3 linked regions of the Homo sapiens genome follow. The protein of the gene in region 3 interacts with the protein of the main gene of each other region in a biochemical or structural test. Each region holds a gene or a part of one and is shown on either strand. Other genes may lie near its edges.

Evidence for each region.
Region 1: the proteins of FKBP5 (region 3) and FES form a complex in vitro, tested with the Homo sapiens proteins (one study listed by BioGRID).
Region 2: the proteins of FKBP5 (region 3) and USP49 form a complex in vitro, tested with the Homo sapiens proteins (one study listed by BioGRID).

The regions. Positions count from the first base shown.
Region 1 is NC_000015.10:90,887,504-90,894,539, reverse strand, and holds part of FES (tyrosine-protein kinase Fes/Fps), read right to left. Parts: intron 5,235-7,036; coding exon 5,097-5,234; intron 5,024-5,096; coding exon 4,904-5,023; intron 4,701-4,903; coding exon 4,578-4,700; intron 4,449-4,577; coding exon 4,262-4,448; intron 4,175-4,261; coding exon of another isoform or gene 4,140-4,174; coding exon 4,056-4,139; intron 3,559-4,055; coding exon 3,349-3,558; intron 2,987-3,348; coding exon 2,864-2,986; intron 2,483-2,863; coding exon 2,429-2,482; intron 1,834-2,428; coding exon 1,715-1,833; intron 1,441-1,714; coding exon 1,346-1,440; intron 1,250-1,345; coding exon 1,126-1,249; intron 887-1,125; coding exon 729-886; intron 605-728; coding exon 482-604; intron 1-481. UniProt on the Homo sapiens protein: Tyrosine-protein kinase that acts downstream of cell surface receptors and plays a role in the regulation of the actin cytoskeleton, microtubule assembly, cell attachment and cell spreading.
Region 2 is NC_000006.12:41,801,340-41,808,375, forward strand, and holds part of USP49 (ubiquitin carboxyl-terminal hydrolase 49), read right to left. Parts: intron 5,673-7,036; 5' UTR 5,645-5,672; coding exon 4,289-5,644; intron 2,672-4,288; coding exon 2,467-2,671; intron 1-2,466. UniProt on the Homo sapiens protein: Deubiquitinase that plays a role in several cellular processes including transcriptional regulation, cell cycle progression or innate immunity.
Region 3 is NC_000006.12:35,615,916-35,622,915, forward strand, and holds part of FKBP5 (peptidyl-prolyl cis-trans isomerase FKBP5), read right to left. Parts: intron 4,360-7,000; coding exon 4,217-4,359; intron 3,296-4,216; coding exon 3,181-3,295; intron 1-3,180. UniProt on the Homo sapiens protein: Immunophilin protein with PPIase and co-chaperone activities. Component of unligated steroid receptors heterocomplexes through interaction with heat-shock protein 90 (HSP90).

The sequences.
Region 1 (7,036 bases), on a different chromosome or scaffold from region 3:
AATCTCGGCTCACTGCAGCCTCCGCCTCCTGGGTTCAAGCAATTCTCCCACCTCAGCCTCCCAAGTAGCTGGGATTACAGGCACGTGCCACCATGCCTGGCTAATTTTTGTATTTTTAGTAGAGATGGGGTTTCACCATGTTGGTCTGGCTGGTCTCAAACTCCTGACCACAGGTGATCCACCTGCCTCGGCCTCCCAAAGTGCTGGGATTACAGGTGTGAGCCACCGTGCCCAGTCTATTTTTGTATTTTTTGTACAGATGGAGTTTCACTGTGTTGTCCAAGCTGATCTTGAACTCCTGGGCTCAAGTGATCCACCCAGCTCAGCCTCCCAAAGTGCTGGGATGACAGGCGTGAGCAACTGGCCAGGTTATTCTTATTCTGCCTGGTGGGAAGGTTGGCATTAAGGGAGTTAGAAGAGTCCGGCTGGAGCATCTGGAAGAGGGTGCAGCCTGAGGCTGCTGTCATCACAGGGTGCTTACCCTTCTCCACAAACTCCCGTGTCTGCTGATTGCTGAGGTTGGGATAGGGGGAGGCCCCCAGGCTGAAGGTCTCCCAGAGCAAGATGCCAAAGCTCCACACGTCGCTTTCGGAGGAGTAGCGGCCTGCAGAGGAGGCGAGGAGGTGAGGCAGCGTGAGTGCACCCTCCCTGGGGCCAGGGCGAGGCAGCCGGCAGGACCCAGGCCTGGCCTCTGGCCATGGAGTCCAGGGTAGACAGGGACTAGGTACCGTAGTTAAGGGCCTCAGGTGCGGTCCACTTCACGGGGACTTGTCTGAGGCCCCCTGAGGCTGCATAGACCCCATCGGCTTCCTCTCGGGACATCCCAAAGTCACTGATCTTCAGGACATTCTTCTCTGTCACCAGGCAGTTCCGAGCAGCCAGGTCCCTGGGTGAGACAGGGCAGGGGCTCATTTGGCCAACAGTCGCCTGCCCAGCCCTGGCTGAACACTCTAGGAAAGCCAAGGACAAAAGCTGCTCCCGGCCCTGGGCACCCCTGTCTACCACAGAGGCCAACTCCCCCTCTGGAGCTGATGCCTGATGGTCCAGCGGGGGGCCCTAGGGGTATAGGTACCTCTTGACTCTGGTCGGGGGTGTTGGCAGGGCCCGTGGCCACCGCCCACTCACCGGTGGATGCAGCACTTGCTCTCCAGGTACTCCATGCCAGCAGCTGCATCCCCCACCATCTGCAGCAGAGTCTTCACCCGCAGGCGGGCCCCCTCCGTGCGGAGGAAGGTCAGGAAGTCGCCCCCTGCAGGTGGGGAGGACCCCTGCTGAGCCTCCTGAGGTAAGGCTGCCACCTGACCAGGCTGCGCGCCCTACCTGGAGCTCAGCGCCCCGCGCTCACCCTGCACAAGCTCCATGACGATGTAGATGGGCTGCTTCTGGGTGCAGACACCAATGAGACGCACGATGTTGGGGTGGCTGTACTGCTTCAGGATCCTGGAGGGCACTGCTGCTCAGGATCTACGTGGCCAGGCCCGCCTCCCCAGGGCCCCCCAGGGATGATGGGAGAAGAGCTTGGCCTCCAAGGCCAGCAGACCCGGACGTGTGACCTGGGGCAGCCTCTACCCTTCGGCACTATAAGGGGGTACTACCCGCAATGGGGGGCCTCGAGGACTAAACACCACCACGGTGGTCAAGCACTTCACACTGTGCCATGCAGTGTAACCTCTGTGTATGCGGGACCCGTGGTGATCATTAGTTTATCACCCACCTCGCTTCCTGTAGAAACTTGGCCTTGAGGTCAGGTGGGAGCGTCTCTCGACAAGACTTCACCGCCACCAGGGTGTTGTCGGCTCGCAGGCGTCCGCTGAACACTTCGCCAAAGTTCCCCTGAAACGGTCTTGGGCTCCTACCACGGCCTTCCCAGTCCCGCAGTTCTCTTCTCCGCTTCCTACCCATTCTGCTTCCTACCCCTGGGTGAGGGGCCCCCGTGTTCGGACCCCTCACCCAGGCTCTCTGGGAGTTTGACCCTCGCTGGGGAACCTAGAGAGCACATGGGGCAGGCAGGGAAAGTTGCCTCCGATGTGCCACCCTTCCTGAGAGAAGTGACATGGAAATCCAAAAATCACTCTCCCTTGGGTTTGAAAAGCATTCTGATTTTTAGGACAGTGACTTCTTCCCTAAACAGGTATCTTATGGCTTACAGTAACAGGGTGTCTCCCTGCGTGCACACAAGAGCTCGATGGGGGCGGCCTGGGTGGGGGTGATGAGGTCAGGGTGCTGGCAGAGCTGTCTGCTGGGAGTTTTCAGGGTAGGTACTGTCCCGTTTCCTGGAGGATGGTGTGTGGTGGGGGCTGGGCAGGGAGTCGGGGTACAAGTGGGGAATCAGATGGGGCAGGGAGGTCTCTGGGTGGTAGGGCAGGGGGCCCAGGCGCGACTCAGGAGAAGTCGCCAGCGACAAGGAGGCCAGCAGAGGCGCACTCACCCGTCCAATCTGCTCACCCAACACCAGGTCCTCATGGTTCAGCACCCACTTGTCCTGGGGAAGAGAGGAGACAGGGGATCAGAAGTCTGAAGAAAAGGGGTGCTGGGCCCTTAGAAGGGCTGTGTCCTCCATTTTTTGGCGCCTCCATATGTGACCAGGGGTGGGACCACGTGGGGAGCACACTGAGATGACTACGGGGTCCAGGCAGGTGCCCTGACCAGGTAAGCACCAACCTGGTGTGTACAGCCCATGGCATAGGAGTGGCCCTGACATTCCAAACCTAGAGCAAGGCTGGCCCTGAGGGTCACTCACTCTGCATCTTGTATGTAGACGGAGGGCCTGGAAAGCCCTTTCTGCTCAGACGCTGGGTGGGCCTGACCCACACTCCCCAAGCCCTGCCACAGGTGGCATGGGCCAGGCTGGGTGCAGGCTCACCTTGGGCACAGCCCTGTGCAGGACAACACCACTCTTCTTGGTGAGGGGCTGCTGGGTGCTCAGTAGGTGGTCGATGAGCAAAGGAATGCTAGGAAAGCCTTCCCCTTCCAGTCGGTACAGGTTCTGCAGGGCAGGGGACCCGGGGTCAGCAGCCTCCATTCTGAGGGGGCGTGAGCCCTGGGAGGGGGAAAGGGAGAGCAGCAGGGGAGAAAGGGCCTGCCCAGGACCAGGGGCAGAGAGACCTCCAGAAAAGATGCCATCTGATGGCACATGACATCCTGCTGCCCCACCAGGGGAGGACTCACACTTAAGCCTCTATTTTGTTGCAGGGACAGGGTGGTCTCTGTGGCCCCTTCCAGCCAGCCCTGCTAGGGAGGCATCCAAGACCTGGCAGCTACCCCCTACCCTGAAAGGCCATTTCCCTTGGGGAAGGGAAGGGAGGGGAAGAGTGAGGCCTGGAAGGCTCGGGTCCCAGCCCCACTCACATCCAAGGACTGGATGATGAAGTGCCGGGGCAGACCATCCCACAGCACCGACAGCACGTACTCCTGCTTGCCCTGGCTCTCCCGCACCAGGAAGTCCCCAGAGTGCACCAGCAGCTCAGCCACCTCTGCCCTCGGGATGGCCCCGTGGTACCACAGCTGCTCATGCAGGGGCTTCTGCACCTCCGGAATGAGCTGCAGCGGTGGAGGGAGCTGGGCAAGGGAGGATCGAGGAGGAGTCACTTAACCACCTTGTTGAAGAGGCCGTGGGGGCAGCCGGGGGTCTCTCTCTCCCCCCTATATGCCCTCAGCCCTTACAACCATGGAGTGGCATGCAGAGCCATCCACAGGCCCCTGGAGTGGGCACTGGACTGGCCCAGGCTCACGCTGGGCAGAGCTGGGAAGGGAAGCCCAGGCAGGAAGACCCCAAACCAAGCTGGTGCCTCCTCCTCCAGGCCACAGGCCCCCAACCCGCTCCTGAAGCAGGGAGAGCCATGGAATAGTCGAGGTTGCTGGTCCCTTTAGCACACTGGGGCGATGGAAAGGGAGGGGTCACAGGGGCAGGGTCTGGGGACATCTGCAGCCTGGAATCCCAGGGAAGAGAGGAACTTCCCAATACAAGCAGCCTGGGCAGAGCCTCCTCTCTAGGACATCCCAGTGATTAAACTCGAAACACAACAGTAGGGGGGCCCAGGCTGGGCGCCACTCACCGAGAACTTGGGGCGGAAGATTCCTGAGATGTGGCTCTTAAGGATCTCCAGCGTGGGTGTCCTTCCCCCCTCTCGCTCCTGCTCCTGAGGCCAGGGACAGACGTCAGCGGGTGGCCAGGCTTAGGGAGGGGGAGGGCGAAAATGAGGAGCGCAGCCCCAGGTGGGCAGGCCGGTGGCGGGCAGCGGCCGCGGATGGGGCAGCTCACCGAGGACGACGTGGAGTGGCGGTCATCCTGCAGGAGCAGCACAGGCGGGGGCTCGCCGGGGCCCAGGTGCTCCAGCTTGGTCTGCAGCAACTCCTGCTGGGCCTGCAGCTTGGCCTGGCTGCACAGCGCTACCTGCAGCCCCTGCAGTGCTTCTTGCAGCACTTGCCTCTTGCCCAGCAGCTGCACCCTGCAGGCAGGGGCGGGTGGGAGGGTGGATGAGAATAAGGGCTCGGTCTGCGGCGGGTAGCCAGCAGCAGTTAGGGTAGGTAGGAGGGAGGGAGGCCCAGGAGGCTGCTGCAGGCAGGGGCCCACTCACCGCTCCCGGGGGTGGGTGTTCTCCTCTTCATTCCGGAGCTCCTGTTGCAGCTGCGTAACCATCTCCTGCCGCCTGAACACCATCTCGGTGGCCACAGCCAGCTCATCTGTCACTGAGGTCAGCCTGCACCCAAGAGAAGGGCAGCATTAGAACCGAGCCCTCCTGCCCCCTCAACCCAGGTCCAGTGCATCCCTGTAGAGCCAAGCAAGCCCGGCCACCTGGTGACAGCTCTGTGTGGACAGTCTCCACGACCTAGCCCTGCCTACATAAACACTCGTGGTCTGCTGGGAGCCCCGCCGCAGCCCAGGTGCAAAGCCACCACCCACGTGTGCTGCACGCTCTCCACAGTCAGCTCGTTCAGCTGGAGCTCCCCAGGCTCCAGCGGTTCACCCTCCTCAAGCAGTGACTCATCGAACGTGACACAGGGTGGGACGTCAGGTGCGGACCTGTGGGGGACAGCGCCCCGTCAGTGGACAGGCCAGCAGCCCTGGGCCCAGCAGGAGCAAGGACGGGGCTTACCCATACTGTCGCAGGAAGCCTTGGTACTCAGCCTCAGGCTGGATGCGGGCAGCAGCTGCAGCCATCTCCCGGTGAATGGCCACCACCTCATCCTGCACCAGGCTGCTAATCTCCAGGTATTCCTGCAGGATCTCCTTCCTGCCCCCGAGACGGGATCCCCAGTCAGGGGAGCCTCAGGCTGGGCAAGGCTGGGCAGTTCAGGCCTAGGACCCTGGGTTTGGAGTCAGGGCTGGGGTTGACCCCTGCCTCACTTCGAGCTAGCCATGCCACTCTAGGCAAATTATTTAACCTCTCCCTAATCTTCTATTTCCTGATATATATAAGAGGGACACTGGCAGTTGTAATAAGGATCCAGTGGGCCAGGCACAGTGGCTCACGCCTATAATACCAACACTGGGAGGTCGAGGCGGGTGGATTGCCTGAGGTCAGTTCGAGACCAGCCTGGCTAACGTGGTGAAACCCCATCTCTACTGAAAAAGCAAATACAAAAATTAGCCAGGCATGGTGGCACATGCCTGTAGTCCCAGCTACTTGGCTACTCGGGAGGCTGAGGCAAGAGAATCGCTTGAGCCTGGGAGGTGGAGGTTGCAGTGAGCCAAGATCGCGCCACTGCACTCCAGCCTGGCGAAAGAATGAGACTACATCTCTAAATAAATAAATAAATAAATAAATAAATAAATAAATAAATAAATAAATGAACTGCTATCCTTGTCTCCTAAACCTCTTCTTCCCACAGCCTTCCCTACATAAGTTAACAGCCACTCCATCTTCCAGCTGCTCCAGGCCAAATCCCCAGAGTGACCCCTGACTCCTCTATTTCACGCCCCACTTCCAATCCATAGGGAAATCCCACTGGCTTCACCTTCCAGGACCTGACCGCGCCTCACCTCCATTGCTACCTCCCCGTCCTAGTGGCCAAAAGCTTGGATCTGGATTATGGCAAGAGCCTGCTCTCTGGCCTCCCAGCTTCTGTCCTTGCTCCCTGAAGTCTATTTGCAGCACAGCAGCCAGAGTGGCCTTATTAAAACAGAGGTCAGGGCTGGGCATGGTGGCTCATGCCTGTAATCCCGGCACTTTGGGAGGCAGAGGCAGGCAAATCGCTTTGAGCCCAGGAATTAGAGACTAGCCTGGGCAACATGGTGAAACCCCATCTCTACTAAAAATACAAAAATTAGCTGGGTGTGGTGGCGCATGCCCGTAGTTCCAGCTACTCGGGAGGCTGAGGCAGGGGAATCACTTGAACCTGGGAGGCGGAGGTTGCAGTAAGCCGAGATCATGCCACTGCACTCTAGCCTGGGCGGCAGAGCGAGACTCTGACTCAAAAAAAGTTAAAACAAAATGAAACAAAAAAACAGAGGTCAGATCATGCCATTCTTGTTCACCCAGAGCCAAAGTCCTCACCATGGCCCTGCTAGACCCTCTATCACCCAGTAGCCCTTGACGCCTGCCTCCTCCAGCCTCGTGTATGACTCTCCCCCTCCCTCACTCTCAGAGGCACCACTGGTTCCTGGCTATTAGTCCCTGGTACTCTCCTACCTCAAGGCCTGTGTAATTGCTGTCCTCCTTTCTGGAATGGTCTTTCTCCAAATAGCCCCATGATTCACTCCCGTACCCCTCTCAGGGGCCTCTTTGAATGTCACCTCTCAAGAGGCTTTCCCAGATCACTCTATGGACAACTGTCACCTCCTCCCTTGCCTCCGTGCTCCCAGGTCCCGATCCACTTCTCTTGCTTTATTTTTCTCCATGGCTCTTAGTGCTCCTCACATCCTCACTCCACTAACACGAAAGATCCCTGAGGACAGATGTTTTTGTCTACCATCGTTCTCTGGTATAATCCAGAGCCCAGAACAGTGCTCAATGAATGTAATAAAACCCTGGAATAATGAGACCCTGGAATAGTGTAATTCAGAGGTAAGTTGCCTGTTTCCAATCCTTGGCCC
Region 2 (7,036 bases), 6.2 Mb from region 3:
TACTCATGAAAGGTAGCAAATCACAGCCAGATGATGTATCACAGAGCTTTCTGTGACAATAGGATGTGGAGGTGTAACTTCTCATAATAGACTGCATCAGAATGAGTGTGCCATAGGAGAAGCTTTTACCAGGGTGTAGTCGTCACAATACGTGGGGGCATGAACAGAAATGGAATTCACAGAGGGGCTTGGCCTTATTTTATATTCCTATTCACCATTTTTTTGAAAATTACTGCAGCTCTGGCTAGGAATCCTGGCAGTGACTGCCACCTTCAGCAGAGGGAGTATGTGAGCTAAGATGAAGACAATATAGAGTCAGGCTTTGTTTCCCTAAAATGAAATTCACAAAGAAAAAGAAATTACTGATTCAACTGAGATTGATCAGTTCTGTCTCCATTTCATTAAGCTGGCCAGGAAGACAGGTAGAAGACTGACAGTTTTGAAACTTCACAGGCAACAGATCAATGCATCTCATCCCCTCACCATAGGTTTCCTTCTCTGCCATTATTTGTACTTGCCTAGAGAAATCCTGATAAATTGGCATATCTGACAACCAAAGAACAATCCTTTCTTGTAAAGATAAACAAAAGTTATTTCTTGCCTAATCTATCATATCCAAAAATGATGGAGTTAAAGCTGTTAATATTCTTTTGTTCCTTACAAGTAAAAGGCTTCAGGAATCACTGTTTTTTTTTTTTTAAATATTACTCTAATGAAACAATTTGATTCACCTGACTCTGTATCTCAAAATGGAACAGGATAGGTGAGTCTATAGTTAACCAGGTATAAAATTTCAAATTTTGTTTTGAAATGGCAAAATGATATCGAGCATAACTTTGTGGTTTTTGTTTTTGTTTTTATTTTCCCTAAAAGAGGTCTTGCTATGCCACCAGGCTGGTCTCAAACTCCTGGCTTCAGGCAATCCTCCTGCCTTGGCCTCCCAAAGTGTTGGGATTACAGGTATGAGCCACTACACCTGGCCTCAAGCCTGACTTTTGATTTTTGTTCTGATTCTTCAAAGAGCGGAACAGGTTTCCCACAATTTATTTTATTTTATTTTATTTTATTTTTTATTTTATTTTATTTTATTTTATTTATTTATTTATTTATTTATTTATTTATTTATTTATTTTTTATTTATTTTTTTTTTTTGAGACAGCATCTCGCTCTGTCACCCAGGCTGGAGTGCAGTGGCGCCCACCTTGGGGTCTCCCAAAGTCCTGGGATTACAGGCGTGAGCCACTGCACCTGGCCTAAGATTTTTTTTTTCTTCAAAACTGGTAATCTAAACTATTATGTGACTGAAAATTGATTTCTAGGTCTCTGCACAGTCCATTAACTTTATACTTTTAGTTTCCAAATCTATATATGCCACAAACCCCAAACATAAGCATCCACATATTTGTTCTGCATTTCCTCTGTCCATACTGGATTAGCAGAAGCATTAAGTGTTAGTGTGGCAAGATGGAAGGACCCTGATAACATGCCTCTGTAACCATATGTAAGAGTTCCATTTTAAAATTACAGACAACACAGAAATACTTCCGTATGACCCTCTCTGAAATGTGAACTTTTCAGGCATGTGAACAATAAAAACAAAATGCAGAAAATATTTCATGAAGCTGCCACTGAGCAATGCACCTTAAGACTTGCTTTCTTGGTTCCACTGTACCAATCTTTAGCATCACTTTTGACAGACATTAAGTCTACCAGTTCAGTACAAAAGCTTGCTTTTCTGATATCGCACCCTTCAGAAAGGCTATACCATCTGGGTTTAGATTAAGTAAGAACTGTCAGACTCTACATTCATGAATTTAAGCAGCAGCCCCACAGCACTAAGAAGCTAAGTACTAACATTCTCAGAGTCCCCATTTCAGGAGCCACAACTTTAAAATCCCTTCCAAGATGACAACTAATGTCAATCAGGAGGTCAATCAACTCCTAGGTCTTTGTTTCATTTGTTGTTGTTGTTGTTGTTGTTTGAAACGGAGTCTTGCTCTGTTGCCCAGGCTGGAGTGCAATGGCGCAATCTTGGCTCACTGCACCCTCCGCTTCCTGGGTTCAACCGATTCTCCTGCCTCAGCCTCCCGAGTAGCTGGGATTACAGGCATCTGCCACTATGCCCAGCTAATTTTTGTATTTTTAGTAGAGACAGGGTTTCACCATGTTGGTCAGGCTGGTCTCAAACTCCTGACCTCAAGTGATCTGTCCGCCTTGGCCTCCCAAAATGCTGGGATTACAGGCGTGAGCCACAACGCCCAGCCTTGTTTTGTTTTTTAATACATAATTAAAACAAGTCCATGTTTTTTGTTTTTAGAAAAATGGGAGAAAAAGATCTTTAAAAGATGCTTTAGAACCATTCAATATCATTAGTGTTACTTTTGACTAAAGAGGACAAAGCAGCACCTTAAACTGATATTCCAATTATTCTTCCCCACTACGCCCCCTCCTCCACACAGCACTCACTGTTACACTGGTCACAAGCGTAGATTCTCCCTTCCAGGGCCTCTGTCTCTGTGAATTTGGCCAGCATCTCAGTGAGCAAGCACTCTGTTTGATTCAAAGGGACAAACCCCTTTTCTATGCAGTGATAGCGTTCAGGGAATTCCAGGGATAGGTCCCAAAAGGGCTCAATGGTATTGGATTTGTAATTGCATGATATACATGTGACCTAGAATGAAAAGATTGATTTACAGATTATATAACTTCCATGCTTCCTGTGTACAGTTTTACTTGCTTCATAAAAGACACACTTTATCAAAACTAAGTGTATAATTTTCAAAAAATAGTAATATTAAAATAATAAACATAACTTTAAAAGAATTAGAGTATATTATTTCTGATGTACATTTCTAACTATGGGATGCTAGCTGGAATTTAAAAACCATACTGCATAGAGACTATACTAACCCCCCTTTTCACCTCTCCCAAAATATGCTCTACCATTCAATAGTACAGTAGTACAGACTGCAAGTTATCATGCAGTCACTCAAGGGATCAGTCTGACACAGATTTGCAGGTCCCTGCCTGCTTCCCTCACCCTGGCATTCCTCCTCTTGACTTCAGACCTTCCATGGGGCCCAGCATGCCTCTCTTTTTGCCTTTGTTACTTGCAGAAGCCCTACACTGAACCCCTCTGTCTGCAGAGCCTCAAAGTGCTGTGATTAGACCTCCATTCCCACTATAACCTTCCCAGGTGCACCTTTCTTCCTAAGGGGAGGGGAGACAGAAGAAGTGCTGATAAATACTCCCCCTTTTACATGCTCAAAAACAAAAGCCTAATTAAACTTTCCCTTTCCATCCCATTCATCATTCTTTCAAAGCCCTAAAAACCAAGACACATAGTGTAGAGGTTTTACCTGAAACTCTTAAGTTGCTCACCAACCCACCCCCCACCACGTTTTTTTGTTTGTTTTTTGGTTTTTTTTGAGACAGTCTCCATCTGTCACCCAGGCTGTAGTGCCAATGGCACAATCTCGGCTCACCGCAACCTCCGCCTCCTGGGCTTAAGCAATTCTCCTGCCTCAGCCTCCCAAGTAGCTGGGATTACAGGCATGCGCCACCACGCCCGGCTAATTTTGTATTTTTAGTAGAGACAGGGTTTCACCATGTTGGCCAGGCTGGTCTCTAACTCCTGACCTCAGGTGATCCACCCACCTTGGCCTCCTGAAGTGCTGGGATTACAGGCATGAGCCACCGTGCCCGGCACACCTGCCTTTTTTTAACTATAGAAATACTCTTTCTGCATATTCTCGCAAGGCCCTGTCTAAGCATTTTTGCTTAGGTTACATGGCTAAAGATGCAGGAAATAAAAGGTAATGGGGAACAGGAAGGAGGCTTGCACTGGCCTTTAGCATGCTCCCAGCTACCTACCTTCCCTGTATGTAAAGAAGGGAGATTGCTCTTTCAAACTATTATGGAACCAGGGTTACAAGCAAACTCTGTTCCCTCAAATTGATCAAAGGATGGCACACCAACAATGGGTACTTAATTATAACAATGAGAATATTATATTACCCCTATCTTCAATAACAATTAAAGATATTCACTGAAAATTAAGCGATGTGGCAAGTTAAACTAAAAATCTGGCCGGAAAGACACTAGGCAAGTTTCCCCAAAAGGCCATCATAATGTACAGCAGAATGAAAGGTATAATGGCCACCCTCCAAATTGCATAATCACAGCAAATGTGGGCTACTCTTATTAGCCCAATAACCCGGGGAAGGCACTCACAGGAAGCCCAAGCTAACATACAAGCCTCTCATTGTCATGGTAGGCACACACATACCTGACTGAGCAGCTGCCCATGAAATATGGTATTCACCACCTTTAAGACCTGTTTGGTGAGCTTCCTCTGGGAGAAGGGGATGAGGATCCGGCGTGTGGTGCCCTCAGACTCGAGTTCCTGCTGCACCTTGTGCAGCAGCTCGCAGAGAAATTCCTGCGCGTCCTGTTGGTCGTAGCCGCGGAAGGCAGGGATCAGGCTCCACACTGAGTGGAGCATGGCGAAGGGCGACACTAGGGCCCACTTCCCGGACCACATGACTCGGAAGAGGGTGTGCAGTTCACGGCAGAGGGAAATGTGCTTTGAACTCGGCTCCTTGTTCTGGATGAGCTCCAGACTCCGACTAATGGAGGCCCTGCCGTTCCAGCAGAAGCCCTCCCGCTCGCATGCCTCGGCCCTGTCATTTCTCAAGGACAGCTCCGTGGCCGAGCTGTTGGTTGGCTTGCCAGAAAGCTGAGTCTTCCCGTTGGTGGCTTTGGGAAACAGATGTTCCGTTTTGGAAGGGTCAAGGTTGAGGAAACATTCTCGGAACTTCTGGAGGTGGCTGAGCACCTGGAGGATGGAGTTCATGTAGCAGGTGTTGCCCAGGTTGCGCAGGCCCGTGACGCCTGGGGCCATGGCCGGCTGGCGACGCAGCTTGAGTGTGGCGGCGGGCACTCTGCGTGAGGTAGGGAGGGCGGCGGGGCGCGAGGCAGCCGGGCCCGCGTCGCGGGGCGTGTGCAGGAGCAGCCGTGCACTCTTGCGCGGAGGGGTGCTGGCCAGCTCCTCCAGCAGCCGCCGTTTCACCTCGCGCCGCCGCCTCCGCGCCTCCTCCTTCTTGCGCTCCAGGGCCTCCTCCTGCCGCCGCTGCTCCAGCTTCGCCTGGCCCCGGGAGCTCTTCTCGAACCACAGCCGCAGCGTCCTGGCCAGCAGGCGCTGACGCCGGTACCACAGAGCCGTGAGCATCTGCGGCTGTCCCTGAGGAGCGCGCTGCGGCAGGACCACGTCCTCACCCGAAGCCATGGACCGCAGCGTCCGCCCACGTCTCACCGGCGTGTCCTGTTTCTGGCCCCGGACCGCCAGGAGGGAGCTTCTTAGCAGCTTCAGGTCCCCCTCTGGGTTATCATTGAGCACGTAGTCCTTGCACAGGTAACAGAACACGTAGAGATCCCGGACTTCCATGGCTAGCGGGTGTCCCGTCTCCTCAAAGTGTTTCAGGGCGTGGTCCTCAATATAGCGGCCGCAGGCCACGTGGGAGCACTTGAGGCAGGCCCACACGGACTCGGTGGTGGCACACTCTAAGCAGCACCACTTCTGAGGGTTCAGGATGGAGTGGTCCTGGGCGAGCCGTAACCGCCCTACATGTTTGCATCTATCCATGTCTTATAGAAGTCGCCACTTTCTCAACCTGGCACGACAGAGTCCCCAAAAAAGAAAAAGAAAAAGAAAACACTTTTAGAAAAATATTTTCCTTAAAAAAAAAAAAAAAAGTAAAAGGCTTGCAATTGATATTTCAACTCTAGATTCATTCATTTTCAACTCCAAATTGGTTCCTTTGAAAGTTAAAAAAAGGCACATTTGGTATAAAGGCAGAGAGTTACAGGACAGTTAAATTACTTAAAAAGGAAGACTCTTACGGAAGGGTTAGCACAAATTTGAAACTTTATGGTGTTTCACATACCAGTGGGAGAGATGAAGAAACTCAAATAAAAAGTCAATTTTAGGTCGATTGCAATGTTTTTCAAAGCAGAGATAACATGATATAAGATAGAAATAAGAGAAAGAAAGTCCTCACCAGTACAAAGTATCATTTTTATGAGACGTGACTAAGGAACATTGTATATGTGGTTTTGTTTTGAGACGGGGTCACTCTGTCGCCCAGGCTGGAGTGCAGTGGCGGGATATCAGCTCATTGCAACCTCCACCTCCCGGGCTCAAGCGATTCTCCCACTTCAGCCTCCCGAGTATCTGGGATTACTGACGCCACGCCACCACACCCGGCTAATTTTTGTATTTTTAGTAGAGACGGGGTTTCAACATGTTGGCCAGGTTGGTCTCGAACTCCTGACCTCAGGTGATCTGCCCACCTCGGCATTCCAAAGTGCTGGGAATACAGGCATGAGCCACCGTGCACAGCCGTATATGTGTTTTTTAATTTATTTTTTGTTTTTTATGTATTTTTTTTTTTGAGGTCGAGCCTCCCTCTGTCACCCAGGATGGAGTGTAGTGGTGCAGTCTCAGCTCACTGCAACTTCTGCCTCCCTGGTTCAAGCGATTCTCCTGCCTCAGCCTCCCAGGAAGCTGGGATTACAGGTGCGCGCACCACCACACCCGGCTAATTTTTTTGTATTTTTAGTAGAGACGAGATTTAACCATGTTGGCCAGGCTGGTCTCGAACTACTGACCTAAATGATCTGCCCGCCTCAGCCTCCTAAAGTGCTGGGAATACAGGCACGAGCCACTGCGCCCAGCCAACATCCGTCTTTTTGAAAAGAACATCTGCATCTTGCAGTAAGGGTGGGAAAACTTTTACCTTCTTTACTGAAAGGAAAGGTAAGTAAAGAACTGGACAAATCTGACTTAGGACAAGAGGTGAAGTGGCTACTGGTATAATATTTAACCAAACTACCGAAACAAAAGAAAAAAAAGCAACGAATCTTCCAGCTGATATATATGAAAATGCTTTTTAAAACAGTAGAACATCCTAAGCATGTTTTTTTTTCCCCCTCCCAATAATGCTTCTTCAATTCAATAATCAGAGAAGCCTTGTGG
Region 3 (7,000 bases):
ACATCACTTCAGTGGTATTTTCAAAAAATGCATAACCTCAATCTAAAAACATCCCAGAAACCCAAATTGAGGGATATTCTACAAAACGGTCAGTTGTATTCAAAATAGTAGAGTAGGCTGGGTGCGGTGGCTCATGCCTGTAATCCCAGCATTTTGGGAGGCTGAGGCGGGTGTATCACCCAAGGTCAGGAGCTTGAGGACCAGCCTGACCAACATGTTAGAAACCCTGTCTCTAATAAAAATACAAAAATTAGTCGGGCATGGTGGCGTGCGCCTATAGTCCCAGCTACTTGGGAGGCTGAGACAGGAGAATTGCTTGAACCCAGGAGGTGGAGGTTGCAGTGAGCTGCGATAGCATCACTACACTCTAGCCTGGATGACAGAGCAAGACTCCATCTCAAAAAAAAAAAAAAAAAAAAAAAAAGTAAATACAATGCTGGATCCTGAGTTTGATCTTAGACCAGAAAACGACAGTAGTGTAGTAACTGGTGAAATTCAAATAAGATCTGGAAAACAGTTACTGGTACTACATCAATGTTAACTTCCTGATTTTGATAAATGTACTGTGATTAGGTAAGATGTTAACATTTAGAGGAAGCTGTGTAAAGCATATAAGGGAACGCGCTATACTAGTTTTGCAACTTTTCTGTAATTCTAAAATTATTTCAAAACAAAAAGTTAAAAAAAAATTGACTCCCATCGCAAGTATTACCAAAAGCAAGATCTGATTTAATTTAGTCTGCTCTAAAGTCATCTCCACAGCGGTAATTTTGTGATATTGTCTATAATTGGGAAAAGTTTTTCCTCTTAGTTGACAAAACCCTCCAGTTTAAAAATATATATTATAAATTACTGAATCTAGGGTGTGCCTGTATCCATAGGAGTAAACCTCTACCTTTGTACATACATTTGAAATTTTTCATAAGAAAAATTTAAAATACACATTATAGACAAGCTTAAGTGCTTACTAATATAGTGAAGATGATTTTCTATCATTCCTACAACTTTTGTAAATATTTAGAATTCTATGATGGAGTTTTAGGGCTAGTAGGACCTTAAAAATCAAGAGGTTCAAGCTTGCCTCACTGCATAGGAAGGAAGCTAACGCCCAGAGGTGAAGTCTAGTTGAAGCCAGCCTGAGGCCAGGGCTGAGGCTGGAACCCTATCTCCCAACTCCTAGTCTGGAGCTATTTCCCTGGTATTCTACATTTAAAGCTCTTCATGTATTCAAAAACTTATCCCAAATGGCAATTTGGGATAAATAATATTTGTAACTGCTTCCCAAAACAACAGAATTTAAACTGATTTGCCAGACTCGTAGAAATGAAATATGGGTTGAAAATAGTATATACTTTAAAAGAAAGAAACTCAGCTATTCTTGTTTTCTGTTTAAATGAACTCTTTACTTTTTTTTTTTAAGGAGACAAGGTCTCACTATGGTACCTAGGCTAGAGTGCACTGGCTATTCACTGGTGTAACCATAGCACGCTATAGCCTCGAACTCCTGGCCTCTAGTGATCCTCCTATCTCAGCCTCCCAAGTAGCTGGGACTACAGGTGCACACCATTACACCTGGCTTTTGAAATAATTATTTTAAACAGACCTTTTATAATAATAGTTCATGTTCCCATCCTTGTTGAATGATTTGATTTTTGTTCTTAATGGAAGTATTTCTCTGTTTTCTCACAACTCTCTTTTGAAGGATTTCAGCTCACTAATGACACTTCTCAAGCACTTATCCATGCAGAAAGCCTTTACTGAACACCAAATGTGTGTCACGCACTGCAGGAAATGCTGAACACAAAAGGATGAAGAAAGATTCTGGTCCTCAAGCACTCAAAGTATACTGGGAGAAATGGGCAAATACTGATTACAATGTAAAGTGACAAGTAGTATACACAGTGGTACATATAATTTGCTCCGGGAGGGAAGAAGAGTTAGCTATCTCAGTCCTCAGAGCTGCCCCTACTCCCACTTAGCAAATGAAGAAACGGAATAGCTTCAGGTTACTCAATAAACACCAAAGCAGGACTTGAACCTAGGTCTCCTGATATGGAATAGAATGAACATTATTATCCAATATTGATCTAAATGATGAACTATTTTTTAATCTTGATGACAGCTGATGAGATGTATTTGAGTCCTAAAAGGGATTATAATCTACTGCTCTGTTTAGTAACTCTGTAACCCTGGGCAATTTATTTAACATCTCTGAATTAACTTTTCTCATCTGGGGACAAGAAATTTTACCTCTTAAGGTTGTGAGAAATAAATGAACAAACATATCAGGCAACTAATATAGTTGTTGGCACACCAGAGAGTCCACAGATTGAGAATTTCTTGTGGATGGAATTACTTTGTATTCATTTTTGAGTTTGTAGAGGCTGGTAGCATGCCTGACACGTAGATGTTGAATTAATATTTACTAAATAAAATTATTAAATAAATGTTGAACCTGAAACTATTTTTTTTTTGGACAGAATCTTGCTGTTGTCCAGGCTGAAGCACAATGGCACAATCACGGCTCTCTGCTGTAGCATTCATCTCCAGAGCTCAAGTGATTCTTCCACCTCAGCCTCCCAAGTAGCTGGGACTACAGGGACGTGACACCACACTTGACTAATTCTCTTGATGCTTTTTAGTAGAGATGGGGCCTCACTATGCTGTCCTGGCTGGTCTCGAATTCCTAAGCTCAAGAGATCCTCCTGCCTCGGCCTCCCAAAGTGCTGGAATTACAGGCATGAGCCACTGTGCCCAGCTAAGACTATCTTTGAGATATATTCAATACTTTTTTTTTGAGACAGAGTCTTGCTTTGTCATCCAGGCTGGAGTGCAGTAGCACCATCTCGACTCACTGCAACCCCTGCCTCCCGGGTTCAAGTGATTCTCATGCCTCAGCCTCCCGAGTAGCTGGGAATACAGGCGTGCACCACCACACCTGGCTAGTTTTTTGTATTTTTAGTAGAGATGGGGTTTCGCCATGCTGGCCAGGCTGGTCTCAAACTCCTGAGCTCAGGCAATCCACCCGCCTCGACCTCCCAAAGTGCTGGGATTACAGGCGTGAGTCACTGCGCACAGCCGATATATTCATTTCTACAAACATTTTTTTTTAAGTCTCCATTTCGTCCACATAAATGGCCCAACTTTTAAGGACTAGTTCCCTCTTACTTTAATACTTACTTTCTACTGTTGCTCCTTCGTTTGGATTTGAATATCCCTCTCCTTTCCGTTTGGTTCTCCGGATAATGCCTCCATCTTCAAATAAATCCTCTCCTTTGAAATCAAGGAGCTCAATCTAGAAAGAAAAAAGGAATTCAGCTGAGAAAAGACCAAATAAAGCCAACTGAACATATGTGAAGGCAAGGGCAACCAATTATTTCATTTTACAAAATAAAGCTGTTTTAAAATATATACATTCATTTATGCATCTTAATTATTGGAAAAGTAGCAAAAAAAAAAAAACCCACTATACTTTTCCATACTTGGAAAGAATTTCATGTAATGCTAATGTCTAGAACTATATCCTAAGGGACTGCAGTGCAAAGATAGGAAATACTAGGAAAACTACCCTGTGGGCAAAAAGCCAGAGCTACAAGGTGCTGGTGTAGAACTATTTTGTTTGAGGCCACAACTTTCCCATCCTGGGTTTATGGAGTTCCCTTCTCAAAATGTAAGAATAAATCTCATGGATGTGACCTACGACTGATTAAAGGTGTATTTTACCTAGCTGGGGTGGTTCTTAAAAATCAAGTTTTGCCAAATATATGTAATTCAACATAGGATGAATAATGTTTTATCACCACCAACGGCTTCTAGAGAAGTGAGATCTGTGACACATAAATTTTTATAATATGTAAATACCCCGCAACGTGACATAGGCATATTTCAACATTTATCGCCAACATTTCCATCCTGTACTCTGGTCAATTTTGAGTATGTCACACTCACACCATGGACCAGAATCTTTATTTCTAAGTGTAGCGTCTTTTGTTTATTTGGATATGACCTTTTTGTGCTAGAAACACGTTTCTAAGAAAGCACTGGCACGCGCACCCTTGGGTTTGTGGGAAACAATTCAAGAAGCCATGCTCCAAAATAAGTAAGTTGGATCTGATTCTCTATAGCAAGCTTAGCTCCTTTTCCCACTGCCTGTTGCTTCAAAGCCATTCCTATTGTAGAGCAGATGCTGACAAGGCAACATCACACACATACTTGCCTCAAAAAAGAGAGTTGCATTCGAGGGAATTTTAGGGAGACTGCCAGCCGAGCCATATGCATATTCTGGTTTGCACAGTAAATGGCATATCTCTCCTTTCTTCATGGTAGCCACCCCAATGTCCCATGCCTTGATGACTTGGCCTAAGGGAAAGGAAAAGGTAGTTGAAAGCTATAAGCCCTATTTAAAAAGATTTAACTTTCATAAAACCAAAGTTCTAATTTCCAGTTTTTCATACTACATACTCAGCTAGAAAGTATGGGCTACAAGATGACAGAGTGCTACATACAAATAAATAAATTATTTTTTTTGAAGGCTATCACAAAAGATTCCCTGTTGATCGGCCCAGCACTTTGGGAGGCTGAGGTGGGAGGACTGCTTGAGTCCAGGAATTTGACACCAGCCTGGGCAACACAGCAAGACCTCATCTCTAAAAAAAAAAAAAAAACACCCCAAAGAACCAAAGAACACAGCTGGGTATGGTGCACACCTGTAGTCCCAGCTACTCCGGAGGCTGTGGTGGGAGGACAGCTTAAGCCTGGGAGCCCAGGAGATTGAGGCTTCAGTGAGTCATGATTATGCCACTGCACTCTAGCCTGGGTGACAGAGTGAGACCCTGTCTCAAAAAGGATTCCCTGCTGAAAGGGATGAAAGTAATATAAATTCCTAAACTACTCAAAAATTAAGTCTTTGAAAACTGGTGGTAACATTATCCATGAAATATGGCTATGTTGCAATTGTTGCCTAATTTATCATTTCAACTATAATAAGCGCAAATTTTCTAGGCAGAGATAGAACAAAAATAGTATTGAAAAATAGAGTGTGTCCTAAGGAAGCTTATAATTTAGTTGGGTAGACAAAAAAAACAACAAAACAAGAAGTAACCAGAACAGGATAAATTGCATAAAAGGGTCCATGAAACACATTTCTTCTCAAAATTTAGAATCAGAAAAATGTTCCTTTAAACAAAAACATATGTGTCTTTTTGTCAAACCACAACTACAGAACTTAAAATATTTTATTTTTTGCCTACTTCCAGGAAACTAAGTTAAATTTACTGCTCAATTGTAGAACTATATTAGGCTATATAATTGTAATCTCAATGTTTATAGTTCCTATGATGTGCATCATTATCTTACTGTAAGCAGTATCAAGTCCTTTCGGAAACAATAGAAAATTTAGGCCATTTAAAAGGCTAAATTACATTTTGGTGGGGCATGGTGGCTCACGCCTGTAATCCCAGAACTTTGGGAGGCCAAGACAGGCGGATCACTTGAGGCCAGGAATTCAAGCCTGGCCAACATGGTGAAACCCCGTCTCTACTAAAAATACAAAAATTAGCCAGGCATGGTAGTGCGTGCCTGTAATCCCAGCTACTTAGGAGGCTGAGGCAGGAGAATTGCTTGAACCTGGGAGGCGGAGGTTGCAGTGAGTAGAGATCATGCCACTGCACTCCAGCCTGGGCGACACAGCAAGACTCTGTCTCCAAAAAAAAAAAAAAAAAGGCTAAATGACAAATGAGGTACTCTGTCAATCAGAAATATTAAGTATCTGGGGGCTGGGCACGTTGGCTCGCGCCTGTAATCCCAGCTGTAATCCCAGCACTTTGGGAGGCCAAGGCGGGCAGATCCCTTGAGCTTAGGAGTTTGAGACCAGCCCAGGCAACATGGTGAAACCCCATCTCCACAAAAAAATATATTTAAAAAATGAGCCAGGCGTGGTGGTGCTTGCCAGCTACTCAGCAGGCTGAGGAGAGAGGACTACTTGAGTCCAGGAGGTCAAGGCTGCAGTGAGCTGAGATCATGCCACTGCACTCCAGCCTGGGCAGCAGAGTGGAGACCCTGTCCTGTCTCAAAAAACAAAAACAAAAATGTAAGTATTCAAAAGTAGGATCAGATAAGAGATGAACCCCAGAGGAAGTGAATTTGAAGTGAGCTGGTGGTAGGATATTAGGACAAGGGAAACCCTACATAACAGTATGTAAGCAGGGATAGATAAACCATTTTTTATTCATGACTTTAGCTTAATCTTCATTAAATATTACAACTTTTCAAAATGTCAGCTACATTTATTTCAGTTAAAAATATATGTAAGTGGCCAGGAATAGTGGCTCATACCTCTCATCTCAGCATTTTGGAAGGCCAAAGCAGGAGCATCCACTTGAGCCCAAGAGTTTTAAGACCGGCCAGGGCAACATAGTGAAACTCCATCTCTACAAAAATTTAAAAAATTAGTGCGGCATGGTGGCATATGCTTGTAGCTCCAGCTACTTTGGAGGTTAAGACAGGAGAAGAGCTTGAGCCTAGGAGTAAGAGGCTACAGTGAGCAATGATTATGTCACTGCACTCCAGACTAGGTGACAGAGCGAGACCCTGTCTCTTAAAAAAAAAAAAAAATCAAGTAATACATGCCTATTATTAAAACACCCATGAAAGAGATGGAAAGTGAAAGCTGAAAGGCCATCCATCTGCTCCTTATAAGTAACTGTTACGTTTCTTTGGTATCCTACTGTGTGCTGTCACTTTTTAAAAAAATTTAAAATACAAATGACAGCAAACTAGACATTCAGTTCTAAACTACTTTTTCATTTATTATATATCTTCATCCTCTTTCTCCATCAGTAGAAAGGAGGATGTACATTTTAGAGGTCAAAAATGCAGCATACTCTAACTTCAGAATACCTGGATTTGAATACCAAGTTTGCCCTTTACTATCTGTGTAAACTTGTGCAAGTTATTTAATCTCTGTGCTTAGTCTCCTCACCTGCAAAATGTAAATAATAAC